Regions from separate parts of the Homo sapiens genome. Here region 2 is linked to region 1. The links come from fine-mapping of genetic effects on gene expression. A gene starts in region 1. The other region holds a variant in brackets. All regions are shown on one strand. Distances are between the middles of the regions. Region 1 holds the start of ZBTB17 (zinc finger and BTB domain containing 17). Region 2 overlaps SPEN (spen family transcriptional repressor).

Region 1 (14,935 bases):
ATGACCCCAGGTTATCTGACCCTGCCTTGAGCCAAGAATTTAAACCCCAAATCTTTTCTTATTTGAAGCTCTATGGTGCAATTATAAACAGCCATGACCTTGTTTGCCAGCAGATATCAGCCAAAAGCAGCAGGACTATGGCTACAGCCTCACTTCCTTCTTCCAAATCCCACTAACTGGCAGAACCCATCCATATGTGGGATTCTAATTGCAGCTGAGTCTGGGAAATACATTTTTTTTTTTGAGATGGAGTTTCACTCTTGTTACCCAGGCTGTAGTGCAATGGCACAATCTTGGCTCACTGCAACCTCCGCCTCCCGGGTTCAAGCGATTCTCCTGCCTCAGCCTCCTGAGTAGCTAGGATTACAGGCATGCGCCACCACACTCAGCTAATTTTTAATTTTTAGTAGAGACAGTGTTTCTCCATGTTGGTCAGGCTGGTCTCAAACTCCCGACCTCAGGTGATCCACCTGCCTCGGCCTCCCAAAGTGCTGGGATTACAGGCGTGAGCCACCACGCCAGGCGGAAATACATTTTTAGCGTTTTAGATTCTGGAAAGAATGGATGCTGAGTCCTGATTGATCACATCTAACACAGATAGACCCGGGGATAGATTTGTATGCTTAATATTGGGAAGACAAGAAGGTTCCTAACAGATCTGCTATTATTCTCCCTGTAAAAGAAGAGGTGAAATACAAGTGTTGGTAAGGATGTGGAAAAATTGGAACCTTTGTGTACTGTTGGTGGAATGCAAAATGGTGCAGCCACTATGAAGAACGGTATATGGGGATTCCTCAAAAAATTAAAAATAGAACCACCATAGGATCCAGAAATCCCACTTCTGGGTCTTTATCTAAAGAATTGAAATCAGGACCTTGGAGAGATATTCGTGCTCCACTGTTCATTGTAGCATTTATTCACAATAGCCAAAATGTGGAAACAACCCAACCAAGGGTCCACTGACAGACAAATGGTTAAACCAAATACGGTATATACATAAGATAGAATATTATTCAGCCTTTAAAAAAGAAATTCTGCAAAATTTGACAACAGTGATAAACCTTAAGGACATTGTGCTATGTGAAATAAGCCAGTACAGAAGGACAAATCCAGCATGATTCCACTGTAAACTAAAAATAAAATCCCAAGTCCCCCACCGACTGAACGGACCTCCTTTTGGCTAAGGGGACCCCAGAAAAACCTTAGAGACTGAGTTCCCAGCTACAACAGGGTGGGAGGTTAGACACGTGATATGATTTGGTTGTGTCCCCACCCAAATCTCATCTTGAATTGTAGTTTCCATAAACCCCACGTGTTGTGGGAGGGACCCGGTGGGAGGTGATTGAATCATGGGGGTGATTACCCCCATGCTGCTGTTCTCAGGATAGTGAGTGAGAGTAAGTTCTCAGGATATCTGATGTTTTGTTTTGTTTTTGTTTTTGTTTTAGACGGAGACTCACTATTTTTACTAGAGATGGAGTTTCAGTATGTTGGCCTGGAACTCCTGACCTCAAGTGATCCACCTGCTTTGGCCTCCCAAATTTCTGGGATTACAGGCATGAACCACAACTCCCAGCCTTTCTGATGGTTTTATAAGGGGCTTTTCCTCCTTTTGCTCATTCTCCTTCTTGCTGCTGCCATGTGAAGAAGGATGTGTTTGCTTCCCCTTCCACCATGATTGGAAGTTGCCTGAGGCCTCCCCAGTCATGCTGAATTGTGAGTCAACTAAACCTCTTTCCTTTACACATTACCCAGTCTTGGGTATGCCTTTATTAGCAGCGTGAGAACAGACTAAAACAACACACCTTGATATACTTATTACTTTTATCTATCTATCTATCTATTTATTTATTTATTTATTTATTTATTTATTTATTTATTTATTTTGAGACAGCATCTTGCTCTGTCGCCCAGGCTGAAGTGCAGTGCCGCAATCTTGGCTCACTGCAACCTCCACCTCCCGGGTTCAAGAGATTCTCCTGCCTCAGCCTCCCGAGTAGCTGGGATTACAGACACACACCACCACGCCCAGCTAATTTTTGTATTTTTAGTAGAGACAGAGTTTCACCATGTTGGCCAGGCTGATCTCGAACTCCTGACCTCAAGCGATCCATCCGCCTCAGCCTCCCAAAGTGCTGGGATTACATGTGTGAGCCACCATGCCCGGCCCTATTTGTATTTTAGACATAACAACTGATGAGCATTAAAGTTAAAATAGAGACAATAAGACTGACAGAACAGACTGTGGCAATAACATCCCAAATTATAGACAGGACCTAAGGCTGTGCCACGCAAGGGTTCAGCCGTGCACTCCTACCTTAAAAAATAAACTATGTTCAATTGCCACAAGGTTTTTCTTTTTCTCTAGCAGCTAAACGACTACTTGCCTCGAGATAAACAGTATTAAGACAATTACGACTCATTCAGCTCACAGAGGCCAACTGGAACTCCTGTTCCACCAGCCGTAACTACAGCTTTGGACAAAGAAGGTGATTTCGATAACTTTCTCCAGCTAAGAAGACCACCAACCAGGGACTGGTCCTGGACAGTTTACAGAGGCTGTGCACTTGAATGCTTTTGTGCCCTGAAAAGACCTTTTGACATATAGGGCCTAATTGTAATACATTTATTTAAAATTTTTTTTAGAGACAGGGTCTTGGTTTGTCACCCAGGCTGGAATGCAGTGGCACAATCATAGCTCACTGCAGCCCCGAACTCCTGGGCTGAAGTGATCCTCCTGCCTCAGCCTCCCAAGTAGCTGGGATTACAGGTATGCATTACTATACCCAGCTAAGCTTTTATTTTTAGTAGAGATGAGGGGGAGTCTCATTATGTTGCCCAGGCTTGTCTCCAATTCCCAGTCTCAAGCGATCCTCCTGCCTTGGCCTCCCAAAGTGCTGGGATTACAGGCATGAGCCACCACACCTGGCCTGTAATACATTTAAATGTTAAGTCCAAACATTAGTTCAACCTAAAGTAAACATGGGTCATATATTACCACCTATGTAACAAACCTGCACCTCCTGCACATGTACCTTTGAACTTAAAATAAAAGTTGAAGAGAAAGAACAAATTCTTAAGAGGACAGCTCTCATATTAAGTTTTCTTACTATGATTTAAAAAAAATTTTTTTAAGAAATGGGGAAGTATGGAACCAAAAAGGGGCCTGCATATCCAAAGCAAAACTAAGCAAAAAGAACAAATCTGGGAGCATCACATTACCCAACTTCAAACTATACTACAAGGCTATAGTCCCCAAAACAGCACGGTACTGGAATAAAATAGGTACATAGACCAAACGAACAGAATAGAGAACCCAGAAATAAAGCCAAATACTTATATCCAATGGATCTTCAACAAAGCAAACAAAAATATAAAGGGGGGAGGGGCACCCTATTCAGTAAATGGTACTGGGATAATTGGCAAGCCACACGTAGAAGAATGAAACTGTATCCTCATCTCTCACCTTATACAAATATCAACTCAAGATAGATCAAAGACTGAAATCTAAGACCTGAAACCACAAAAATTCTAGAAGACAACATTGGAAAAACTCTTCTGGACATTGGCTTAGGCGAAGACTTTATGACTAAGAACCCAAAAGCAAATGCAACAAAAATGAATATAAATAAATGGGACCTAATTAAACTAAAAAGTTTCTGCACAGCAAAATAAATAATCAGCAGAGTAAACAGACAACCCACAGAGTGGGAGAAAATTTTCACAAACTATGCATCCAACAAAGAACTAATACCCAGAATCTACAAGGAACTCAAACAAATCAGCAAGAAAAAAGCAAATAATCCTATTAAAAAGTCACATGCTAAGGACATGAACAGACAATTCTTATTTTTTTTTTTTTGAGACAGAGTCTCACACTGTCGCCCAGGCTGGAGTGCAGTGGCACAATCTTAGCTCACTGCAGCCTCAGGATCAAGCAATTCTCCCTGCCTCAGCCTCTTGAGTAGCTTGGTACTACAGGTGCCCACCACGATGCTGGCTATTTTTTTTATTTTTATTTTTTTGATTTTTTAGTAGAGACGAGGTTTCGCCATGTTGACCAGGCTGGTCTCGAACTCCTGACCTCAGGCTATCTGCCCACTTCGGCCTCCCAAAGTGCTGGGATTACAGGCGTGAGCCACCGCGCCCGGCCCGACAGTTCTTAAAAGAAGATACACAAATGGCCAACAAACGTGAAAAAATGCTCAATATCACTAATCATCAGGCAAATGCAAATCAAAACCATAATGCCATACCTACTCCTGCATGAATGGCCACAATCAAAAATGAAAAAATGATAGATGTTGACATGGTTGTGGTGAAAAGGGAACACTTTTGCACTGCTGGTGGGAATGTAAACTAGCACAACCACTATGGAAAACAATATGGATGTTCCTTAAAGAACTAAAAGTAAATCTGCCATTAGATCCAGCAATCCCACTAGCGGGTATCTACAGAGAGGAAAATAAGTCATTATATGAAAAATACACTTCCACACGCATGTTTGTAGCAGCACAGTTCACAATTGCAAACATATAGAACCATCTCAAATGCCCATCAATGCACGAGTGGATAAAGAAAATGTGGTATATATATATAACATGGAATACTACTCAGCCATAAAAAGGAATGAAATAATGGCATTTGCAGCAACATGGATGGAGCTAGAGACCATTATTCTAAATGAAGTAACTCAGGAATGGAAAACCAAATATCATATGCTCTCACTTTTAGGTGGGAGCTAAGCTATGAGGACGCAAAGGCATAAGAATGACACAATGGACTTTGGGAACTCAGGGGGAAAGGTGGGAGGGGTGAGGGATAAAAGACTACACTTTGGGTTGGCTGGGCGCAGTGGCTCACGCCTGCAATCCCAGCACTTTGGGAGGCCGAGGCGGGCGGATCACGAGGTCAGGACATCCAGACCATCCTGGCTAACACGGTGAAACCCCGTCTCTACTAAAAATACAAAAAATTAGCCGGGCATGGTGGCGGGCGCCTGTAGTCCCAGCTACTCGGGAGGCTGAGTCAGGAGAATGGCGTGAACCTGGGAGGCGGAACTTGCAGTGAGCCCAGATGGCGCCACTGCACTCCAGCCTGGGCAACAGAGCAAGACTCCATCTCAAAAAAAAAAAAAAAAAAAAAAAAAGACTACACCTTGGGTAGAATGTACACTGTTCAGGTCATGGGTCCCCCAAAATCACAGAAATCATCACTAAAGAACTTATCCATGTAACCAAACACCATGTGTTCCCCAAAAACTACTGAAATAAAAATTAAAAATATAGTTAAAAAGAACGGGTGAAGTTAGCCAGTTGTGGGTGCACATGCCTGTAGTCTCAGCTACTGGGGAGGTTGAAATGGGATGCTTAAGCCTAGGGGTTTCAGTCCAGCCGGGCAACATAGCGAGACCCCATCTAAAAAAAAAAAAAAGAAAGAAAAGAAAGACGGCCGGGCACGGCGGCTCACGCCTGTAATCCCAGCACTTTGGGAGGCTGAGGCAGGTGGATCACGAGGTCAGAAGATCGAGACCATCCTGGCTAACATGGTGAAACCCCGTCTCTACTAAAAATACAAAAAATTAGCCAGGTGTTGTGGCGGGCGCCTGTAGTCCCAGCTACTCTGGAGGCTGAGACAGGAGAATGGCGTGAACCCGGGAGGCGGAGCTTGCAGTGAACCGAGACAGCGCCACTGCACTCCAGCCTGGAAGACAGAGTGAGACTCTGTCTCCAAAAAAAAAAAAAAAACCTAAAGACAAGAAGGGGTGAAGTCAACTGCTGGGCTTTTTTGTTTCTCTAGCCATTGTGAAGACAGGAGTGAGTTGCCAGATTGGCATATGTTGCATCCCACTGAAGGCTAGTGGACATGAATCTCTAGGGAACAGTCTCCCCACTGCATACTTTCTTCAGCTGTGCTTGGCTGTTTGGGAGCTAACAAAGAGAAAAGGTGCATTTGGATTCACACAGCGTTGGTATTCTTACCAAATCCATGTGACAAAAAGGCAAGGGGGCAAAAGAGCTTACAGTAGTGGCAAGAGTGTTGTTAAAATTATAGATTATGGAAAATATGCAGGCCTAGAAGTAAACAAAGGAGAAAGCCCTCAGACTGTGAGAAAGTGGAGAAGTCAGTGGCCTAGAGCTACCAAAAAGGTAGAAGAGGGGCCACGGAGGGGCCATGCAAGTCTGCAGACACTTTTGTTTTCAGACACCTTTATTCACGTCCAAGACAATCAGGGAAGGGGATAATGTTCGGTTTAGAAGGTAGAAAAACACAACTGGGATCTGCAGCTTTGAAGCCACAAGTAGATTCATATCTCCGGTCCACCACTTACAAGATATGTGACCATGGACATTGATTTACACTTTTTGAGTCTGTTTTCCCTTTTTTAAAATTAGGAGAATAATACTATCTTATAATTGGTGTGAGGATTTAAAGAGATAATGCATGTAAAGCGCTTAACACAGTGCCTGGCACACAGTAAGAGCTGAACACATGATGTTACTGTTATATTTGGAAGAGAAACCAAGGCAGGGGTACAATGAGGACAACTCTGAGCGCCGAAGTACTGTAAGGTGGAACTTTTGGATAGCTAGGCGCATGCGTCTGTCTATGGGCGCTCTCCTAGCGAGGACGCTGCGCATGCGCCGGAAGTTGCAGCCGGGAAGCCTGCGAGGTCGGTTCCGCCCGACTCTAACATGGCGGCGCCCTTTGTCTGCTCTGGAGTGCCGTCCCCGGCCTTCTCGCGGCCGTGATGCACCTCCCTCTGCGGTGGGGTCCGGGACATGGCAGGTGAGTGTCAACAATCGCCCGGGGCCGGGGAAGTCCCGGGAGCCGGGGCGGAGGCGGCGGAGGATGGGGCGCGGTGGGACGCCGGTGACGGTTGTGTGGGGGAGGGGAGGGAAGTGGAATGGGACGCCAACCGGGGCTGAGGGGACACCGCTGGGCGGGAGATTGTGGGGTGGCGGGGCGGGGGGCGTCGCCGGGCGTGCTGGCGGGGAGTGGGCGGCCAGGCGACCGCCCGGGCGAGGGGGCGCGTGTCACCTCCCGGGCTGGATGACACCCCAGCTGGTAGCATCTCCGCCCCCGCCGCACGGCTGTCACCGCCCCTTGACCCCGCGCGCTGTCGAGGGTGGGCGTTCTGCGGCCGCGAGGGAGCGCAGTGCCGGGGCAGCTCCTGTCGGCCGGCCGGGGCGGGAGGGAGCGGGGCTGCCCGGGCCTAGGAGGAGCTGACAGAGGAGGCCGACGCTGTCCCTGTATAAAAGCATTTCATTCATTCATTCGTACTGCGGACGGTGGTTCAGCACCTGATAGATGGTGAAGCTAGAGCGAGTGATGCGGGCGGACTCGATCCTCCAGGATCCTCGATCCTGGAGTTAGGAGTGTGAACCGTGGAGCCCAGCAGCGGGGTTTGAATCCCCATTCCCTGCTGTGACCTTAGGCACTTTTGGCTTTTTCTCTCTGCCTGGGTTTATTCATCCTTTAAGCAGAGATGATAATAAAATCAGCCTCCTAAGATTGTAATAAAGGGGAAATGAGGCTCCTAGAACACTTATGGGTACAAAGTAAATGCTGTGTGTTTGTTGCTGTTATTAATTGTATCACCATTGTCACCCAGAGCTCAGAGACCCATGTGGGAGACATACAGGTAAATCAGCAATTCTGATACTGCTGCGAGGGCAGAAAGCCCTCCTTCCTCTGAAGCACGGAGTAGAGACACATCACTCAGCCTAGGGGGAATCCCGGGAGGCTTCTGTCCCCCAGAAAGCTAAGATCTAAGGGAAGCTCAGCGGAGTGAGGCAGGAAAACGGGTATTCCCAGTTAAGGGTGTAGTTTGTGAGAAAACTCATCTTCGTAGAGAGAGGAGAGAGAGATCAGGCTAAATAAAGAAGCAGACTGGGCCGGGCTCGTTGTCTCACGCTTGTAATCTCAGCACTTTGGGAGGCCCAGGCGGGCAGATCACTTGAGGTCAGGAGTTCGAGACCAGCCTGGCCAATATGGTGAAACCCCCGTCTCTACTAAAAATACAAAAATTAGCCGGTCGTGCTTGCGCGCGCCTGTAGTCCCAGCTGCTCAGGAGGCTGAGGTATGAGAATCGCTCGAACGCAGGAGGCGGAGGTTGCAGTGAGCCGAAACGGCGCCACTGCACTCCAGCCTGGGCGACAGAGCGAGATTCCGTCTCAAAAAAGAAAAAAAAAAAAAGCAGCAGCAAGCTGTGGTCTGGTCTTAGGGGACGTTGTAAACCTAGTTAAGGACTTTAAACTTTAGGTTAATGGGAAGCCATTTAAGAATCAGATCTGTGGCCAGGTGCGGTGGCTTACTCTGTAATTCTAGCACTTTGGGAGGCCAACGTGGGATGATCATTTGAGCCCAGGAGTTTGAGACAAGCCTGGGCAACATGGCAAGACCCCATCTTTATTAAAAGAAAAAAAAAAAAAAAGGAAAAAAAAAATAGCCGGGCATGGTGGAGTACACCTCTGGTGGTCCCAGCTTCTTGGAAGGCTGAGGTGGGAGGATTCTTTTATTTCCAGCCTGAAATAAAAGAATCAGGTTTTTTTTGTTTTTGTTTTTGTTTTTTTTTTTTGAGACTACGTCTTGCTCTGTCACCCAGGCTGGAGTGCAGTGGCAGCATAATCATAGTTCACTGCAGCCTTGATCTGAACTCAAGTGATCCTTCTGCCTCAGCCTCCCAACTAGCTGGGACTACAGGCGTGCACCATAACACCTGGCTAATTTTTTAAATTTTTAGTAGAGATGGGGTCTCACTATGTTGCCCAGACTGGTCTCGAACTCTTGGCCTCAAATGATCCTCCCGCCTCAGCCTCCCAAAGTACTGGGATTATAGGCATGTGCAACCATGCCTGGCCACGAATCAGATTTGTGGATTAGGAAGATCACTCTGGCTAAGTGAAGAATGTATCAAAGGGAGTGGGCCTGTAGGCCAATTAAGAGCCTGCTAGAATAATCCAAGTGAGAAATAAAGGTGTGAGTTAAAGGCAGAGAGTGAGGAGAGATGGTTTTAGCGATAGAATTGACACAATTTGGTGATTAGTTTGATGAGAGTTAGGGGCAGGGAGGAGTCAGGATCACCCCAGTTTTTGACTGATGGGTGTTGGATGCTGCTCCATGTGATAGGGAGCAGTACGGGGAGCAGATCTGGGGGAGGGCAGATATGTTTAGTTTTGAACATGTTGGAGTTGGATGCCTGTAAAACATTCAAGTGCACCTGTTCAGCTAGTAGTTATCACCATCAAAGGTCACTGAAGTCATGGGAGGGGATGAGCTCACCTAGGGTAGGGTATGCAATGAGAAACAAAGTGTCCAGGATATCCCAGAGCAGTGCCAATGCTGCAGTAATGCTTGGATACAAACCTTGTCGTTTTTCCTTCTTAACATTGTGTCCTGTCTCTTATTGAGCTGGAGTTCTTGAGAGCAGGGCCTGAGGCTGAGTCTGTGCATCTTTGTGTCCCAGTGTCAGCATGCTATCTGGCACAGAGCAGGCCATTTATTCAGCACTTCCTTGGGCCAGGCTCTGTGCTAAGCACTCTGTATTTGTCTATGTTTGATGGATGCATGAAAAGGCAGCTCTGAGGGAGCAGGTACCCTTTAGGTTCTCATCAGATTTTCCACTTGTGTGTCATTGATTCAGGTAATGAGCCGGACGAGGGGAGCCAAGCTGGAGTTTACACAGGCAAACTGTCAGAAAAGAGTAGCCTGGGCTGTCTGGAAATCTGAGGTATGTCTGTAATACTCAAGGATGAAACAAATCAGATCAGTTTGTCCTTTTTCTCTAGGTTCAACATGATTCAAATGATTCTTTCCTGATAGCCTTTTCTTCAAAATTATATAGTAATGACAAAATCCCAGTTACAGTTTGGTTGGGAAATTGTTGATCTTACTATTATTGTTTTACCTGCAGAGAGAGGCCAGAGTGGATGATCACTGGGCAATGCTCACGCCTTTAGTTAGGTGAAATCTACAGTGGTGGAAACAGAAGTTTATTCCTTGCTCCTTAACATTCTGGAAGTACACAGTCCAGAGCTGGTAGCACAGCTTGCTGTGTTCTGTGAGATCATCTGGGAGCAGGATTCCTTTGATAATGTGGCTTTTCTTGCTCAAACTTAGGCTTCCATCTCATGGTCCAAGCTGGCTGCTGTAGCTCCTGCCATCATGTATGATCTCCCTAGGGCAAAAAGGGACACAGAGCAGCGAGCACACACTCATTCCTTTTAAAGTTCTAATGTTTAAGGTGGGATTTTTGTGCAACATGGTTCCCAAACATAAGCCAGTTCCTGCATCTGGTGCACAGCTAAAGAACAGATTGTGACTGTTTCAGTGCTGGAGAAAAAGCTGGCTGAGAGAACCTGCTCTGTCCTCAGTCTGTCTGGATTACTCTCTTGGGGGTGTGATCCCAGCCTGAGGGGAGGTCCACTGAGTCCCCAAGGCAGGCTGCTCTGGCTTTGGGTAGGTTTACAGGGCTTGGGCCCAGGGAGGCCAGGCTTGTTTATCCATTCATTGTTTCTGTGCCCAACATGTGTCAGGCATTGTGCTGGGTGCTAGGGATGCTGGCACAAGTAAGACTGAATCCCGGGAGCAGGTGCTCCCAGCCATGTGTATCCTCACAATGCAATGCAGGAAATACCTTGGAGGGCTGGTGGAGGGTGTGCGCACACAGGGAGGATGCACTGGCGCTGGAAGGCTTTCCTGAGGGGGTGAAGATGTTGCAAACCGCGCATTTTGGACTGATCACTGTAAAATTCCCCTTGGACAGGTAGAGGCAGCTAGGACTCTGGGGTCAGGTGTGAATCTGCCCTCCCGTTGAGTGGCTCTGTGTCCTGACAGTCAGTTCCTTCTGAAACTGTGTCCCAAAGAGTTAAAAAAAAAAAAAGTAATGACTATTAATTTTCCTAATCACAAGATTGTCTTCTGACACATCAGACAGCAAGCCTTTTACTCAGTTTCATTGCTGAGCCTCAGTTTCCTCATCTGTAAAATAGGGATGACAGAATTGTTTGGAGAATTACATGAGGACAGGCAGGTAATTCACAGAATTGTCTGGAGAATTACATGAGGTCAGGCAGGTAATTCACAGGGTTTGCTGCATAGTGCAGCACTCCCCAACCTTTTCGTTTTTTTTTTTCTGTCAGCAAAATATATATTTTATATATATAGTGTATATATATAGTGTGTGTGTATATATATATAGTGTGTGTGTATATATATAGTGTGTGTGTATATATATAGTGTGTGTGTATATATATAGTGTGTGTGTATATATATATAGTGTGTGTATATATATAGTGTGTGTGTATATATAGTGTGTGTGTATATATATAGTGTGTGTGTATATATATATAGTGTGTGTGTATATATATAGTGTGTATATATATATAGTGTGTGTATATATATATATTGTGTGTGTATGTACATATATATATATACATACACACATACAGAGAGAGAGAGAGATTTCCCCCACCCACCCACCTACCTACCCAAAACATGTGTCTTAGTGTTTGATTTTTTTTTTTCATACACACAGAATAGGGAATTTCAGAATTTTTACATACATTTTAGCAAACAAGTTTTGATCTATTGGCTTCTTGGTGCAGTAATGGTGCCAAAGGCTCATACTATTACAAGGAAGTTGTGAACACTGATTTCTCAGGAGGTGAGGCCAGCCCCACATGAACTTCTCTTGCATCCCTCTGGTCCACCATGATACATAACTACTTAGACTTTTTTTTTCCCTCTATTGAATCATTAGATATTAAAAATGGAACAACAGAGTCACAAAGGGCCACATGCTTTTCAGTAGAAAGCATTCTCCTTCTCTAGGTTGCTATCACAGTGCAGACCTGACTGCCTGAATATGCTCAGGAGATTTAGTCAGTATTGTCTGTATTTGGTTATGGAAAAGGCTCTCCTGGCTGGGCGCGGTGGCTTACGCCTGTAATCCCAGCACTTTGGGAGGCTGAGGTGGGTGGATCACGAGGTCAGGAGATCGAGACCATCCTGGCTAACATGGTGAAACTCCGTCTCTACTAAAAATACAAAAATTAGCTGGGCGCAGTGGCAGGCGCCTGTAATCCCAGCTACTCAGGAGTCTGAGGCAAGAGAATCACTTGAACCTGGGAAGCGGAGGTTGCAGTGAGCCGAGATCACGCCACTGCACTCCAGCCTGGGTGACAGAACGAGACTCCATCTCAAGAGAAAAAAAAAAAATTAGCTGGGTGTGGTGGTGGGTGCCTGTAGTCCCAGCTACTCGGGAGGCTGAGGCAGGAGAACCCGGGAGGCGGAGGTTGCAGTGAGCTGAGATCACGCCACTGCATTCTAGCTTAGGTGACAGAGTGAGACTCTGTCTCAAAAATAAAACAAAAAGGCTCTTCCTTTTTTTTTTTTTTCTTCTTTAAGTCCAAAGTGCATAGTGAGAGCAAATCAAAACTTTTTTTATTTTTCCTTCTCAGCATCAGTTTCATGTGAGCATCTTCCCATGAGGGCTGCTCAGATGTCTCGCCTTTGTCCTCCTCACCCTTCAAAAATAAGTGAGAGTCAAGCAATTTAGACATTTATCAGCTTGGCAAATAAACTTGGCAGCAAATAGAAGTCCTACTATTGTAAAGAAATTGATAAGACAAAAGGTACATATGATGACCCAACTACTGTGGTGTTGGGTAATTTATAAGGTTGACCTCTGACTTCATTGATGTAAAATCCTATTGGAAATATGACGGCAGCCATACAGAAAAGCATCATCCCAGTGAATGCTATCCATCGAACATATTTTGTAGCTTCTCTTCCCCAGTGGGAAGCCACCAGCAAACCACATGTGACAATCAATGGGAGGGCAGATTCACACCTGACTCCAGAGTCCTAGCTGCCTCCGTCTGTCTAAGGGGAATTTTACAGTCAATGAAATGATTCCCATGATGATAAAAAACAGCATGGTGACCCACTCCAGGGGAAGCTGGGGAGGGATGCACATCCCCTCTCGTCCACGCATTGTTTGACACTGTCCCATGAGGCCCACAGTGAGTGCTCCCACAGACTCCCTGGTGTTGAGCCAGTCTGGGTTGGTGATGCTGGCGATGGCGAAGATATTGGCAGTCAGAAAGAGACATCCTGAGATAATGGTCAATTTATCATCTCCCTGCCCTGCTCCCCCCACCCTCCGAGGCCCAGGCAGGCAGCGGCCTCACACTTCCCACCCCATGAGCGGCCTCTGGGACCTGGAGTCCCCACACTACTGCCTCGTGCCCCCTCGGCCCCCGTGCACCTAGGACCACCAGCCGTGGCATGGCCCGCAGCCCCCAACCTTTTTGGCACCAGGGACCGGTTTTGTAGGAGACAATTTTATCACAGAAAGGGGGCTGAGGGGTGGGGGGTGGGAGGTGGTTTCAGGTTGACTTAAACACCTTACATTTATTATGTACTTTATTTCTATTACTATTACATTGTAATATATAATGAAATAATTGTACAACTCACCATCATGTAGAGTCAGTGGGAGTCCTGAGCTGCTTTTCCTGCAACTAGACGATCCCATCTGGGGTTGATGGAAGACAGTGACAGATCATCAGGCATTAGATTTTCATGAGAAGCTCACAACCTAGATCCTTCACATGTGCAGCTCACAATAGGGATTGAGCTCCTGTGAGTATCTAATGCTGCTGCTGATCTGACAGGAAGCGGAGCTTAGGTGGTAATGGCAAGTGATGGGGAGCGGCTGTAAATACAGGTTGAAGCTTCGCTCACTTGCGTGCTCACTCGCCCGCCACTCACCTGCCATGTAGCCCACTTCCTAACAGGCCACGGACCAGCAGTGGTTTGTGGCCCAGGGGTTGGGAACCCCTGGTATAGTGGACATTTATGAAATGTTACTTACCTCCTGCTGCAAGGTACAGGCTGGTTGGAAGCTGGAGGCCAGTCAGGTTTGAAGTTGAGGAAGGCCCAAACCTGTGGGGACGCCAGGTTGCCATCCTGCCCTGTGGCAGGGGCTATCCAGGTTGTGCATGGACAGTCAAGGACTACTCTGTGCCCCTTCTGTTTTCTGGGAGAGTTCCCCCAAGCTTTCTAATTAAAGTCATCAAACCTTGGCTACTCAGAGACCATATCCTGAGAGATCTGGTAAGGGGTGTTTTGAGGATTCTCTCTGCCTGTTTAATTCCTTCAAGTTCAGATGCTTCTGGGAAGCCTTTTCTGAGCCATTCCCAGTTCCCCCAACCCAAGTGAGTTTGGAGCCCCTCCCCTGCGACTTCTTAGCATCCTGTTTTTGATCTCTATTAACACATTTTCACCTCAATTATGATCCGAGGCTTCCTTGCCTGCCTTCCCATGAGACCGCCAGCATCTTGGATGCAGGACAGGGTCTTATTTATCCTGGTACTGCCACTGTGTAGCTTGTTTCCTGGCACACAGCTGGCGCTCAGCAAGTGTCGGATGAGTGGATGATCAGCCTTGATTGGCTGAGGAGGAACTGGCATTTGGGGCTGGAGAAAACTCCATGTAATTGAGGGCTGAGCATGCTTCTTGTTTATTGGGCATTTGGCTGTCATATGGGAAATAGACATGGTGAACTCTGACCTTAACTGTGAGAGTTTTGGTCAGAAGATGGTTTCTCTGTCTTTTTGTCTTGTTCCAGTATAGCAGGGTTTCTCAACCTTGACACTTCTGACATTTGGGGCCAGATAAGTCTTTGTTGTGGGGGGTGGGTTTCTGTAGCGTCTCTGGCCTCTCCCCATAGATGCCAGTGGTAACTCTTCTCCAGTGGTGACACCCCAGAATGTCTCCAGATATTGCCAAATATCTCCTGGCACAAAATCACCCCCAGTTAAGAAACCCCTGCAGTATAGGGTAGCAGTTAGGAACACAAACTCCTAAGCCAGGCGTATGTGGGCTTATGTTTGCTTCTTATAATTACTAGCTGTATGCCCTTGGG
Region 2 (14,935 bases), 32 kb after region 1:
TGGGCCCTGGTATTCCCCTCTTCTGCACTTGGGGCTCCTGGGTATGTAGGGGGTGACTAGCAATTGAGGCCCAGGGCTTGCCACCCACACACCTGTGTGCTCACGTGACCTTTTCCACAGCCAGGAGAAGACAGCTCTAGGGTTGCCGTGGCCTGGGCCCACCTCGCCCCTGCCTTTGGTTCCTTCTGCACCCACCTTGCCCTTTGTGCCCTTCAGGTCTTGATCCACAAGCTGGACATTGGTGCCTCCCCATGTCCAGTGCATAGGAGCAGCGCAGCCACGATTCTCCCTTGCGTTCCTTCAGGTCACAGATAGGAACCTGCTGCTTCCAGGGACTGAGGACAGGAGAGAAAGGCCTCTGTGCTTTGCTCCAGGTGGCCGTGTGCTGCTGCCAGCCACTTGGTGCACTTGGTGCGGGGCCAGCTGCCCCAGGGCCTTACCTCCTGATTTCGGGGCTGGCCCTGGCTCTCCAGTGCTTACACTTAGGGCTCTAGCCACAGCCATTTAGGAATGTCATTGAGAGAGCCAAAGCCTGCGCGGGGATGTGTAGGGGGAGGGAACAGCTGTTTCTGGGCCTCTGGCAGCAGCAGCAACGCTGAACTTGTGGCTCGGAGGCTGGTGCGCTGTGGCTCATGCCTGTTGCCACTGCCATGCTCCCCGTTATTTGTTGCGTCACTTCCCCCCGCTCAGCAGATACCCCCACTTGTGAAAAGTTTCCAGACATCACGTGGTGGGAGGCCTTGGCGCCCTTCAAGGCCGACCTGTGCTGGTGTGAGGGGCGTGGCTTCCTCCGGACTCATCACAGCCCGACAGCCATGCATGGCCACAGCAGCTTCAGAGCTGCGGCAGTGATTCACCCCCCAAGATGCTGATGTCACAGGGGAGTGCCTGAGCCGGGGCAGAGCTGCCGAAACTGGGGGCGGAGAGCCCCAAAGTGTCCCTCTCACCTGCCCAGAAGCCGGGGAGCCAGCCCCGTGCAGACTCAGGCCTCAGAGAAGAGGAGGAGTAGGCAGAGAACTCACTACCCCTTAGCAGATCCTGGGCCAGGGCGTGACAGCCGTGCCCAGTTGAATCTGTCTAATGTGGCCCCAGACAGTGGGTGTTGATTTTTCTCTTCAAACATTCTGAAATGGGTTCTTTCTAGAAAAGAGGGCCCGCTTATTTTCCCTAGACAATTGCTGATGTTGACGCCCACTCTGGGTGGTGTTGGGGCGGGAGGGAGAGCTGTTTTAGATAGTTACTTAGTCACGGCTTGTGCGGTTCAAGACTGCTCGGCACTGGGCCATGGAATTTTCCTGAGCATTTTCACTTGTGGGATTTCCAGGCATTAAGTGAGGCCCTTGACAGAGAAGTTGTGGCCAGGTCAGCAGCTCTTGGGGTCAGGATCAAAGTTGTTTCTCCTGGGATGGCCACCAGGACACAGGTTTCTGGAGTCAGAAGACTCCGCAACTCTAGGTAGTTCCCATGAATCAGAAAGAGAGGGAGAGCTAGGCTTTGTCGGGGGATGGGGTACGTGCAGAGCCTGAGAGGGGCCGAGTTCTGCAACACTGGCTGATGAAACACCGTCTTGTCTTCACCTGTCCATGAGAGAATGAGAAAATAGGAAAGTTTTCTTAAAGACCAACATGTCCAATTGAAACATCTGTCCTTTATTCTGAGATTGTCATGCATTCTTTTTGTAACAAATGTTAAAGTGACCATGTCGTTTCATTTTTGAAATGATGACACATTTCAGTGTTCTGTATTTGTTCCCTTTTTTGGCTTTTTCATGTTATTATCAGGCTGAATACGGAGGCGGCTGCCTCGTGTTGGTGCCCCAGTGCTTTTTGGTTTGGGCCACTTTTCCTGGACAGTAAACCCAGGAATACAGGAGCCACCAGTTGGTTGAGTTTGGCTTGCAGGGGGTATCTGGACTGAACTGCCCTTTTGTGGCAGAAATGCCCTCACTTGTTTTAATTCTGTCTTCTCCATGGTGCTCGCCTGGGACTTTAGGAGTGACTGTTGAGCGTGTCTGACGTCCTTTCTCCGTGCTAACCCCAACGCCCTTTGGCTTTCTTCAGCCATGGACTTTCCCCAGCACAGCCAGCATGTCTTGGAACAGCTGAACCAGCAGCGGCAGCTGGGGCTTCTCTGTGACTGCACCTTTGTGGTGGACGGTGTTCACTTTAAGGCTCATAAAGCAGTGCTGGCGGCCTGCAGCGAGTACTTCAAGATGCTCTTCGTGGACCAGAAGGACGTGGTGCACCTGGACATCAGTAACGCGGCAGGTACCCCGTCAGGGCTGGGGCTGAGCTTGCTGATAGCCAGAAGCTATGGCCGGCCCTGTGCCATGCTAGGCCCTCCAGGGGCAGCACCTGCAGGCTGTGGGATGCAACAGGCCTCCCGCACAGGCTTCAGGCCATGAGCAATTCAGTACTAAGTTCCTCCCACCTTTTGGGGGCCTGTTTTGATTGGTAGTGGAGTGGTAAGGGGAGAACGGGCAGGAAGGGCTCATGATGAGCTCTAGGCCGCAGTGAACACAGGAAAGGCCTCATTGGGAGGGGCAGAGAGTAGGCAGGCTCTATGCCCTCTGGCCCCTTTCCGTGGCAGAGTCAGTCCTGAAGCATCTACCCCAGTGCTAACTAGAAGCGTGGGGAGAGGTGATGGGGAAGGCCTAGGGGCTGGGAGCAGTGTCAGGAAGACCTTGGGGTTGTGGAAGGAACTGGTCCTGGATTCAGACTCCCAACCCAGACTGACGTGACATGCCATGAGAAGGTATTATTCTCCCATTTTATAGATGTGGAAACTGAGACCCAAAGAGGTCAGTGACTGGCCTGGAGGTCAGTCAGATAGAGAGTTGGTAGCAGAGCCCTGATGAAAGTCAGGTTGGAGTGTCCTCCACTGGTGAAGTGTAGCGGCCAAATAAGAGGGTGTGGAGGGCAGGTGTTCACAACATCCGTCCTCAATGCAGGGTGGGCATTCACACCTCTGTCCTCATCCAGGGCAGGCATTCACACTCTGTCCTCCCTGCAGGATGGGCATTTATACCCCCGTCCTCTGTGCAGGGTGCATATTCACACCTCCTTTTCTCCATGCATGGGCGGCATTCACAGCCCATCCTCCTCCATGCAGGGCGGACAGTTGCACCTTCTGTTCCCTGTGCAGTGTGGGCATTCACACCTCCTGTCCTCTGTGCAGGGTGGGCGTTCACACCTTTTGTTCTCTGTGCAGGGCAGGCATTCAGACCCTCAGCGAGCACTTCTTTTCAAGGGCTGTTGGTAGTGCTGAGATCCCCCAGGTTACCTGCCTCCTCTCCACAGAGGAGATGGGGCGATGCAGGCTTGCCACTCAGCTGTTCCTAAATCCCTGCGTCCTGCTGCTGAGTGGAGTGGTGGGGCAGGCTGCCGGTGCCGGATCTTGAGGTGGGTCTGTGACAGCTGTCCTGTCCTTGGTAGGCCTGGGGCAGGTGCTGGAGTTTATGTACACGGCCAAGCTGAGCCTGAGCCCTGAGAACGTGGATGATGTGCTGGCCGTGGCCACTTTCCTCCAAATGCAGGACATCATCACGGCCTGCCATGCCCTCAAGTCACTTGCTGAGCCGGCTACCAGCCCTGGGGGAAATGCGGAGGCCTTGGCCACAGAAGGTAGGTTATTGGCAGCTGCTCCCAAGCAGATGGCCAGAGACCTTGGCTTTTGATGTGGGCTCTGCCTCTGACTTTCTGGGTCTCAGTTTCCTCATCTGGCCCTGCCTCGGTTGTGGGTGCTGGCAAGGGTTAGCCTCAGGTCTGAGGGTGGCCTCTCTGCCTGCCTTTCCCCTACAGAGCACCCGGGAGCCGTGCCTGGTTCAGTGCCTTTGCACACGGGCAGGCTCCTAAACCCTCCTGCGGGTCTGTTCTCCTGAGCCCCTCCTTCCACTTCCCTTAGCTGCTAAGATAAAAGCCCTCAGATGCCCACTATGGGCCAGGTGCCTTGCTGTAGACTTCCAGAGGCTGCGTTCCTCCCTTTCCTAGTGCTGACCTCTGATCAGCTCCCTTAGTGCACACATGGGGTCTGCATGTCCCACACAAGCAGGAACCATCACTGTTGTATTCCCAGTGCCCAGCCATCAGCCTGGCATGGAGTGGGTGCCCTGTGAATAATTTGGTGAATGAACAAATCAGCAAACCACTACTTAGAGGTACCCTAGGGAGGACGAGGAAGACCTAGCAAGTTCTGGGCCACCTCACACCTCCAGATGGCGGGCACTTGATGGGAAACGGCAGGTCTGCCCTGTTCCATCTCCAGGAGGGGACAAGAGAGCCAAAGAGGAGAAGGTGGCCACCAGCACGCTGAGCAGGCTGGAGCAGGCAGGACGCAGCACACCCATAGGCCCCAGCAGGGACCTCAAGGAGGAGCGCGGCGGTCAGGCCCAGAGTGCGGCCAGCGGTGAGTCAGATGCCAAGGACCCAGCCGGCTGTCCTGTCACCTCCCAGCAGCCTGGGCACAGGGTAGTGAGGGCTGCCTTGGGGCAGGTAGCACGGGCACCTGCACCTCTTGAGCCTGTGTTACCCAGAATGACCTATTGTGTGTTCCAGGGGGTCTGTTTCAACCAGAGCAGACACAACAGCCTTGGCTAGGGGTGTGCTGGGGCCTCCCCTCCTGGGTCACACGCAGCCACCACCAGCGCGCTGGTCCAGGAGAGGTATCCGACCCCTGGGCAGAGGGTAGCAATCCAGCCTCCGGTGCTTCCCCCACCCAGGTGCAGAGCAGACAGAGAAAGCCGATGCGCCCCGGGAGCCGCCGCCTGTGGAGCTCAAGCCAGACCCCACGAGTGGCATGGCTGCTGCAGAAGCTGAGGCCGCTTTGTCCGAGAGCTCGGAGCAAGGTAGCCCCGCCCAGCCAGGACCAGGCCCTACCTGGTGCATCCTCCCAGGGCCCTGCCTCCACTGCGCACTGGGGCCTCCCTCTCCTCCTGCCTCCAGCTAGTCCCACCTGGAGTCACCATGCACTTCAGCTTTGGGACACCTTGGTCTTCGCATGTTCTTGAGTCTCGAGGTCGTTCCTTGGTTGACCATGCTAGCCGTGTGTCTGTGAGCACAGGCACGTCCTTCAAAGCCCTGGAGCTTCTGCTGCTTCCCGGCTTTCAGCACCGTGCAGGGGTGCCTTGCCACCCACGGCAACCCTCCAGTGCCTGCTGGCCGACAGCGCCCACCCCAGCTGGCTAAGCCCCCTACCTGCATCCCGCAAGCAGCAAATACCCAGTTCACAGGCCCCCCCGGGGGCTTTCCTTGGCCAGTGCTGGGGCCATTTACTGTCCCTTCCACATGTTGCCGGCGCCCCTCACGTGCGCTCAGGCAGAGAGGGCTGCCGCCTCCATGCTTGCCCTTTTCTCCGCAGAAATGGAGGTGGAGCCCGCCCGGAAAGGGGAAGAGGAGCAAAAGGAGCAAGAGGAGCAAGAGGAGGAGGGCGCAGGGCCAGCTGAGGTCAAGGAGGAGGGTTCCCAGCTGGAGAACGGAGAGGCCCCCGAGGAGAACGAGAATGAGGAGTCAGCGGGCACAGACTCGGGGCAGGAGCTCGGCTCCGAGGCCCGGGGCCTGCGCTCAGGCACCTACGGCGACCGCACGGAGTCCAAGGCCTACGGCTCCGTCATCCACAAGTGCGAGGTGAGGGAGACTATGGCCAGCCCTCCCAGCCAGCGTCCCTCCCCTCCGGCCTCCCACCGGCTGCTCCTCACACCCCGCTTCCCCGCTGCACCCACAGGACTGTGGGAAGGAGTTCACGCACACGGGGAACTTCAAGCGGCACATCCGCATCCACACGGGGGAGAAGCCCTTCTCGTGCCGGGAGTGCAGCAAGGCCTTTTCCGACCCGGCCGCGTGCAAGGCCCATGAGAAGACGCACAGGTACTGCCCCAAGCCGGCCTCCTACCCCGGCCCCTGCCAGGCCCGGCCTTTCACGCCCCAGCGAGCCCTGCCTCCTGTCGCCTTCTGGCCCTGCAGCCCTCTGAAGCCCTACGGCTGCGAGGAGTGCGGGAAGAGCTACCGCCTCATCAGCCTGCTGAACCTGCACAAGAAGCGGCACTCGGGCGAGGCGCGCTACCGCTGCGAGGACTGCGGCAAGCTCTTCACCACCTCGGGCAACCTCAAGCGCCACCAGCTGGTGCACAGCGGCGAGAAGCCCTACCAGTGCGACTACTGCGGCCGCTCCTTCTCCGACCCCACTTCCAAGATGCGCCACCTGGAGACCCACGACACGGACAAGGAGCACAAGTGCCCACACTGCGACAAGAAGTTCAACCAGGTGTGCGGACCCCTCCCGGAACCAGCGCCTGGCAGCCGCCGGTGGCCGCAGCCGCATGCATGCCACGTGGTGGGGCGGGCGGGGAGCACAGCCCCGGCCTCCAGGAGCTCATCAGCTTGTTCACCCAGGAAACAGGCGCAGCGAGAGCCACTTCCGCGGGGGAGCTCCCGGTTGCTCTGCGGAGGGCAGGCCGACTCAGGGCGGGGTTTGGTCCTGAAAAAATGGGGTGGGGCGGCTTACCTCTCACCGCTGGGACCTGGGACCTCTCCTGACCCAGGAGAGATAGAGCCCTTCACGGACCCTGGCAAGCCTGAGAGTCAATTGTTCCTTTGTGGGAGGGGCAGGTGAGGGGGCCCGGGGCCGAGCTCTGTGGGGTGGCCCCCCTGACCCCTCCCTGGGCACAGGTAGGGAACCTGAAGGCCCACCTGAAGATCCACATCGCTGACGGGCCCCTCAAGTGCCGAGAGTGTGGGAAGCAGTTCACCACCTCAGGTAGGGCCAGGGCTGCCCTGGCTGCCCTCACACCCCTGCTCCTCGGCCACCGGTGGTGCCCCACGCCAGGTTCGCCCTCGGTCTCGCCACAGGGAACCTGAAGCGGCACCTTCGGATCCACAGCGGGGAGAAGCCCTACGTGTGCATCCACTGCCAGCGACAGTTTGCAGACCCCGGCGCTCTGCAGCGGCACGTCCGCATTCACACAGGTGGGTGGTGAGCGGCCATGCCCAGGACTGGGAGGGCACGGAGAGGAGCAGGCACCAACACCTTCTGCCCGGTCCCCAGGTGAGAAGCCATGCCAGTGTGTGATGTGCGGTAAGGCCTTCACCCAGGCCAGCTCCCTCATCGCCCACGTGCGCCAGCACACCGGGGAGAAGCCCTACGTCTGCGAGCGCTGCGGCAAGAGGTCCTGCCCCCTCCCCCACACCCACTGGCCAGACACCCCACAGTGAGGGGGCTCAGAAGACAAACTGGGGGCTTGGCTGGGGACTGAGCTGACTGCTGCCCACGCCCCAGGCTCTGGTCCTAGGGGTCCTTTTCAGTCTAGAGGGTGAGGCAGGAGGCCCAGGTTGGGGCAGTTCCATGCGAGTCCCTTCCTGTGGCCCCACAGATTCGTCCAGTCCAGCCAGTTGGCCAATCATATTCGCCACCACGACAACATCCGCCCACACAAGTGCAGCGTGTGCAGCAAGGCCTTCGTGAACGTGGGGGACCTGTCCAAGCACATCATCATTCACACTGGTGAGCTGTGGCCCCTACCATGCCTGTTCCTTCCCAGGCCCTGCTGCCAGGTGGGGAGCAGGGGGAAGGAAGGGACCCCCCAGACCCCAGCCTCGGGTGCTAGCTCTTGCTGCAGGTGGCCTTGAAGGCAGTTCTGTTCAAATGAGGACCCCATTTTCCTAGAGCTTCCAGAGGTGCCAGTGTCACCAGAGGCACCCGTGCAGCCACCCCAGAGCACCTCCTGCTGTAAAAGACAGGGTTGCTGGGCAAACGAGTCATTGAGGGCCTCCCACCCCATCCCTGCGGCCCCTTCCCACAAAGGCAAGAGAGAACCTTGCTCCCCCAGGAGAGAAGCCTTACCTGTGTGATAAGTGTGGGCGTGGCTTCAACCGGGTAGACAACCTGCGCTCCCACGTGAAGACCGTGCACCAGGGCAAGGCAGGCATCAAGATCCTGGAGCCCGAGGAGGGCAGTGAGGTCAGCGTGGTCACTGTGGATGACATGGTCACGCTGGCTACCGAGGCACTGGCAGCGACAGCCGTCACTCAGCTCACAGGTGCGGGCTGTGGGCAGCAGAGGGAAGTCACAGGCAGCTTGCTGCCAGGGTGGCGATGATGGGGCAGTGCCCGTGCCTTCACCTTAGGCCCTGCGACTCTGCCCGCAGTGGTGCCGGTGGGAGCTGCAGTGACAGCCGATGAGACGGAAGTCCTGAAGGCCGAGATCAGCAAAGCTGTGAAGCAAGTGCAGGAAGAAGGTGAGGGGGGCCACCCGGGTGTGAATGTGGGCAGAGCCCGGGGTCCTTCCCACTCTGACTGCTGCCCCACCTCCACAGACCCCAACACTCACATCCTCTACGCCTGTGACTCCTGTGGGGACAAGTTTCTGGATGCCAACAGCCTGGCTCAGCATGTGCGAATCCACACAGCCCAGGCACTGGTCATGTTCCAGACAGACGCGGACTTCTATCAGCAGTATGGGCCAGGTGGCACGTGGCCTGCCGGGCAGGTGCTGCAGGCTGGGGAGCTGGTCTTCCGCCCTCGCGACGGGGCTGAGGGCCAGCCCGCACTGGCAGAGACCTCCCCTACAGCTCCTGAATGTCCCCCGCCTGCCGAGTGAGCTGGCGGCCCTTCTGACTGTTTA[TTTAA/A]GGATGGATGGCACCCTGGAACCGGGAAGGGTGGCCTGTTCCCTAGAGAGAATAAATTGGATTATTTTCTAATGCTGCCTATAGGTCCCTGTGGGGTGGGTGGGGAGCTGGCAGCTACAACTGATGCCACAGAAAGGCTGTACCACCCAGGAACCAGCCTTCCTGGGAAGGTCAGCCCGTCCCTCTTGCTGAATGCGACTAGAATCAGAGCCAGGCTGGCTGCTTTGCCCCAAGTTGAGGAGTGGGCAGTACACTCAGGCTGGAGAGACCTCGGCACCACGTGCCCCATGCCCTCATCCCATCTTGTTTGGAGGCTTCTCACCTGTTCATCTTTAGGGCCTGGCCTCCCCTCGCCCCACAGCTATGACCCTGCTCCCCCTCGGCCCAGGTTGGGGAGAGGTTGGGAAGTTGGGGAAGGGACCAGCAGGGGCGGCCACCAACTGCTTACCAGGGTACAGGCAACCCAGAGCGAGCCTGGCTCACAGGCCACTGCTGCCAGGCCTGGCTCAGGGGTCCTTCCAGCCAGAGTGGCAAGGTAGGCCAAGGAGAGTGCCAGGCCCAGGCCACTGCCCTGGCTCTGATGGGCCTAAGGGAGCAGATGGAAGCCACACTTGCTTCAGGGTTACCTGGCCCGAGGACTAAGGCCAAGCCGGTGCCATCATCTTTTGGGAAGGTTCAAAAGATGGCATCTCTGCCACCAGGCTGGGGGCCCAGAGGGACAGGAAGGAGCAGCCAGGGGCTTTGATGGGGAGGTAGGGAGCTGGTGGAACAGCTTTCTCACTCCTGTCAGCAAGGAGTCAGGAGGTACCATCTCGTCCCCCCACAGTGGCCCCGGCATCTATGGCCCACCGTTCAGAGGGGGATGCTATCTTCTCACACCAGGACAGGCCCATTTGTAGGAGCCCATTGGTATTCCAAGTGAGACCACCAACTTTATAGTCCCCATGTCCCTGTCCCAACTCCACAGCTTCTAGAGAATCCAGCTGCAGGGGAAGCCTGTCCCCAACTCCCATTCTCCTGTCTGGAGGCAGAGACGGGATCAAATGAGCCCCCAGGGGCCCCAGGAGGCCACTGCCTCTGCAGGAGTCAGCCTGCTTCACACTGGGAGAAGGGAAGAGGGGGCAAGAGAGAGACAAGAAACCAAAGCTTGCTAAAATGTTTCTGAGATGGCATGGGGTGTGGTTATATTCTGTATCAAAATTGGAAGTGCCTTCCTTCCACATTACCTAAGAACCAGTTAGGACTCTGAAGACACCACAAGAGTGAGAAATGGTTAAGTTCAGTGTCCGTGACAAAAATCTCCTTTGTACAAGATAAAATTATCCTTGGGGAGGAGGACTGACTGACTAGGAGGCAGAAGGGAAACAGTTCCCATGTACAGACTTGGCATGGGGATCAAAAGCGGGATGAGGGCTGACTGTTCCCATAAGCCAAGGACCCATGGTTCGTCCTCCCACCCAAGTGACAATCACACTCACACTTGGTGTGTTTTATATTTTTTAATAAAGTTTGTAATCCAATGGACACACAAAACAAAACTGCGCTGAGAAAAACAGTTTCATAAATTAATAAGTGTTAGGAAGTTGGGGGAAGAGATCAAGGTAATAGGAAGAGGGGTTAGCCAGTCTTTTTGTACAGGTGCCGTGTGACACTTCCACATCGCGGGAGCAGGACCCGTGCTGTACCGAAGCGCACTTATACAAATGAGTGGGCAATACAAAGTCTGAATATGAAAATAAGATTTCCTCTGAAAACACATTTTTGGCACAGATTAAAAAAAACGTATGTCGGGGGATTTGATTTTTTAAGTCAGTATTATATATATTTATATATATTATATATTTATATATACACACATCCCAAGTTCTGCATATCCCACCAAGAGAAAACCTTTCTGTTTGCTCTTCAACTGTAAACTGTACATCCCGGTGAATCAAAGACGGTGGCAGCAGGAGAATTAAGGTGACGCATCCAAATGAGCAAGGGAGATGGGGGTGGACAAAAAAAACCAATGAAATGTTCCTTGACCCCAAGGTCTCAGCAGAAGTTTGAAGTCCTTCCTGCGTTAAGAGTCTGCAATGTGTGTCTACACACACCAAGACATCCAGAGTGTCACAGCCTGTCTTCACTGGGCAAAAGTCCAAGTCACTAATTTAGTGCAAAGGCAGTTCTGTTTTCTTGTTTCTTAAAAACAAACAAACAAAAAATTTTCATTCCACTGCCCTGTTCCTTTTCTCCAAAAAGAGGAAAGAGAAACCCAGCCCCGGTGTCTGCGAGTCCATGGGTTGGTGATGTGTCCTTGGGCTAAAGCATTATGTAAACATACAAGGTAGCAGCACCACTCCTAGAGGAAGTCTGGCCGACTGAGCCGGGCGGCAGGACAGCAAACGGCTGGCCGTCTGGCAGTGGAGTCTGTCCCCTTCGGCAGCTTCTTCCTCTGCTTGGCTGGGTTGTCCTTTGTTTTTACTGCAGAGCCCTGGGAAGATTCACTGAGGTGATAACCACTCAGTGGCTCACACGGAGGCAATGACAATCATGAGGTGGGGAGAGATGTTGGAGATGCTGGCAAGGAGGTCAGGGGCCAGGCGGGACAGGTGACTCTCAGAGAACTCACAGGGCGGGAAGATCTGCAGCACGTAGGCAGGCTGGAGACAGGATAGAGAGCAAAGTGGGACCGTCTGTCTTCACCCCCACAACTCCACTTCCATTGGGGAGCCCTGAAGAGGCCCAATGCTAAGAGCCAGGCCAAATCAGTCCCCAACCAGCAAATGTGCCAGGACTATGTCTACTGGAAGACCTAGCAGGTGTCAGAAAACTATAAACAGGAACCCCCTGGGGCCCTATCTTTAAACTCATGGAAAACCTGTGTTCTCAGCGGTTCCCTGGGTTCTCTTCAGGATGGGTGATGGCGCCCCGCCCCATGTGCTCTACTGACTTCTGTCCAAAATGCCCCTTTGCCCACCTCTGGGGCCAGATCTAGTGGGCACCAGATGAGTAGGCCCACCTACCCTGATCAGCCCCACCTGTGGGTGTACATGTGAAGGAAGGACACAGGACAACCGACCTGATTGGAGCCAGGGTTGGGAACGTTGATGATCCCTGCCGCCTGCTTGGCCTGCAGGTAAGTGATGAAGGCAGCCTTGAGGGACTCGGTCTGGCTCACAACATCCTCTTGGTCACGGCCACAGGGCAGAGCCAGCAGCAGACAGTAATCTGTCTCCACCTGAGGCAGAGGCCAGCTGCCAGTGAGCAGGGGCCTCCTAGTCAAACAGCAGCCCACATCCAACCCACAGTATCAGGTCCACAAAAACCCCCACCTCTGAGATGACTTTAAAGGCTACCCTGATATTTGAATGAAAAAAAAAAAAAAAAAAAGCTTTTTTTCAACCTGAGAAAGCTGATTTAAAAAATAATAATTTTTAAAAACTGTAAAGCCTTGTTTCTGGGTCTAGAGGTACTTTACATCCCCCCACCAAGTAGAAGCATAGTGGACCCTTCATTGCTCACTTCAAGAATACCGTTACTGGCCAGGCACAGTGGCTCAGGCCTGTAATCCCAGCACTTTGGGAGGCCAAGGCAGCCAGATCACTTGAGGTCAGGAGTTCAAGGCTGGCCTGGCCAACATGGTGAAACCCCATCTCTACTAAAAATACAAAAAATTAGCTGGGCATGGTGGTGCCATGGTGGTGCGTGCCTATAATCCCAGCTACTCAGGAGGCTGAGGCAAGAGAATGGCTTGAACCCGGGAGGCAGAGGCTATAATGAACAGAGATCGCACCGCTGCACTCCAGCCCAGGCGACAGAGACTGTTTCAACAACAACAAGAATACAGTTAATGCTTCCATGACAGGCCAGGGAGATGGGCTGGCAGGGACTACCTACGTCTTCCTCCCTGTAGGTGGGGCAGTTGCTCACCTGGGCCTGAGAGTCTTACCGTCATCCTTCGGGCAACCCCTTCCAGCTGCGTTGCCTCCAGCCGCATCCTCTGGGCGATCCTTAGTGGGGGCCCTCCTTCAGAAAGGGGCAGGGACCGATGGGCCAGGACGTTGTTGCCAGAGACGAAGTGGAGCTGCACAGCAGCTGTGTCATTCTTGAGGGCCAGCAGGCCCTGCCACACGATGGGGTACTTCTGCTCACAGGGAAACAAACAGGAAGTGAGCTCATGGCCCCTCGCTGAGCCATGCTGGACACAGCCAGAGGCTGTAGCTTGTGGGTCTGTTAACTAGGGAATCTTAGGACATTTGACATGGCATAAAACTTGGGGGCCAGGAAGGGCAGCCCCTGCTCATGCTTACCTTCAGAAGTTGAACCATATCCACGGGTCTCTGGGAAGTCAGGTGTGGAGAGGAATCTTGTTTGGGGGCTGGCTGGAATTCAGTGTGTGGCAGAACCAGTCCTGGTGGGGTGCTGGGGCCAGAGGTTGTTGGGACAAACAACGGCTGTTTTGGGGCAGTCTGAGTGGGAAGAGAGACTGGAAGGTCAGGCTTCATGGAGACAGACACAGGGGAGGGGAAGGAAGTCGGGCCTGTTTCTGCTTGTGCCCTCTGAACCTGGGTGTGAGGCTCAGGTGGCCTGTTTGCAGGTCCAGCTGGGAGGCGAGGCTGCTCTACTCCCGTCTGGGTCCCCTTTGCCTCCTGGGACACTTGAGGCATCTTGCTGCTTGGTGGCTGGCCGGGCTGACCGAGCTGGGAGGGCGGGCAGGGTGGTGCAGGCTGGGCAGGCTGTGTGGACTGCACAGGCTGAGGAGGCTGCAGGGGCTCACCTTCAGGAGGAGGGCCCTGGTGTAGGGAAGGAAGGCAAAGGGACAGAGTCAGTCTGTTGTGCACAAGCCCCTGAGACCAACAAATGACCCAAAGGGCCACAGGGAAAGGATAAGATGTGGCATCTCCCGTTAAGTCAGGCCCACAGAAGGAGCCTGAATCAACGGAGCTGCTTTCGGGGTTCCAGGTAAGGAGAGATCCCCTATTACCTGCCTCCTGCTGATGCTACCCAGCAAGAGCTCCCTCCCCATATGCAGAACTCCCCATGATGTGATCTAATACTTTCATCTCAGAACTAAGAAAGCTCTTTAAACTCATGAAAAGATCAACATCTTTAGGGACTAGCTGACCAGTTCACTTGTACTCAACCACTATCTTTACCAAAAGGCGGATTTCTTTTTCTTTAAGTAGGGACAGAGTTTCACCATGTTGGCCAAGCTGGTCTTGAACTCCTGACCTCAAGTGATCTGCCAGCCCTGGCCTCCCAAAGTGTTGGGATTACAGGCGTGAGCCACTATGCCCGGCTTTTTTTTTTTTTGAGACTGGGTCTCGCTCTGTCACTGGAGCCTAGTGGCACGACCTTGGTTCAATGCAACCTCTGCCTCCAGGGCTCAAGCAATTTTCCCACCTCAGCCTCCCAGGTAGCTGAAACCACAGGTGTGTGCCACCACACCTGGCTAATTTTTGTAATTTTTTTTTTTTGTACGAGATGGGGTTTTGCCATGTTGCCCAGGCTGGTCTCGAACTCCCGGGCTTAAGCAGTCCTCCCATCTGGGCCTCCCACAGTGCTGGGATTACAGGCATAAGCCACCACACCTGGCCCCTGATTTCTTTCACACATCTTGGCTTAAAAGCCTGCTGAGCCCCACAAGCACATGCCCAACAGACAGTGGGGAGATACCTGGCTGGCTCACCTGAGCAGCTGTCTTGGTCCGGGAAGGCAGGCCAACAGAGGAAGCGGCGGGAAACTGAGTGTGTGTGAGCTGGGCCGGGGGGTGGTAGGTGCGGATGTCGCCGTACCGGTACTCTTGAAACAGCTCCCCGCTGGAGTGCACAATCTGCACCCCATGGGTCACCACCACAGGAGGGGTCAGAGGCAGCCCCTGGAGTTGGTTACTGGGGGTAACTGTGAGGATACGGGCCTCACCATGAGGGGCAGGAGCAGGGGCAGGAAGGGGGACAGGGACAGGGACGGGGGCAGGGGTGGGGGTGGGGGCAGCTTTGGCATCTGGTGTCTTGGCAGCTTCCTTCCCTGGCTGCTGAGGGGCCTTGCTGGCTGGTGGCACCTTCACCACCCCATCCGCGGCCCTGGGCTGCTCGCTGACTGCCGTCACATGTGGATGCACCATGATCCTCACATCCCGTGGCACAGTATAGGGGTGCAGTCGGTACTCAGACTGCATGACTAGTACCTCTGACTGCACAGGGGCTGTGGCTCGAGCGACAGGAAGGTGATAATGCACTTCCTCCTCGGGAGGGTGCTGGGAGGCCAGTGCAGGCACACCAGCTGGGGCTGGCTGCGGGGTGCTGGCACGCTGTGGGGCCCTGACCTCTATTT

Evidence for each region. PIP is the estimated chance that this variant, and not a neighbour inherited with it, causes the effect.
Region 2: its variant is fine-mapped to the expression of ZBTB17 in whole blood (TOPMed, PIP above 0.99).

The regions. Positions count from the first base shown.
Region 1 is chr1:15,967,837-15,982,771 of GRCh38, reverse strand. It overlaps ZBTB17 (zinc finger and BTB domain containing 17), which reads left to right and starts at 6,671. Exons shown (of 16, transcript NM_003443.3): 1 at 6,671-6,789; 2 at 9,647-9,733. RefSeq lists enhancers at 6,307-6,806, 7,698-7,807 and silencers at 6,808-6,907, 6,948-7,277.
Region 2 is chr1:15,935,623-15,950,557 of GRCh38, reverse strand. SPEN (spen family transcriptional repressor) reads right to left here. Exons shown (of 15, transcript NM_015001.3): 11 at 14,292-14,935; 12 at 12,913-13,395; 13 at 12,552-12,746; 14 at 11,682-11,840; 15 at 10,102-11,262. The coding sequence ends at 11,131. It overlaps ZBTB17 (zinc finger and BTB domain containing 17), which reads left to right. Exons shown (of 16, transcript NM_003443.3): 3 at 2,061-2,267; 4 at 3,435-3,623; 5 at 4,264-4,404; 6 at 4,718-4,843; 7 at 5,356-5,621; 8 at 5,719-5,861; 9 at 5,958-6,258; 10 at 6,663-6,750; 11 at 6,843-6,959; 12 at 7,039-7,159; 13 at 7,364-7,494; 14 at 7,820-8,029; 15 at 8,138-8,227; 16 at 8,306-8,689. The coding sequence starts at 2,063. The coding sequence ends at 8,589. It overlaps LOC124903855 (a long non-coding RNA gene), which reads right to left and starts at 627. Exons shown (of 3, transcript XR_007065486.1): 1 at 196-627. RefSeq lists enhancers at 1-662, 1,154-1,323, 1,924-2,033, 7,235-8,434. The variant TTTAA/A (reference allele first, on the strand shown) is at 8,614.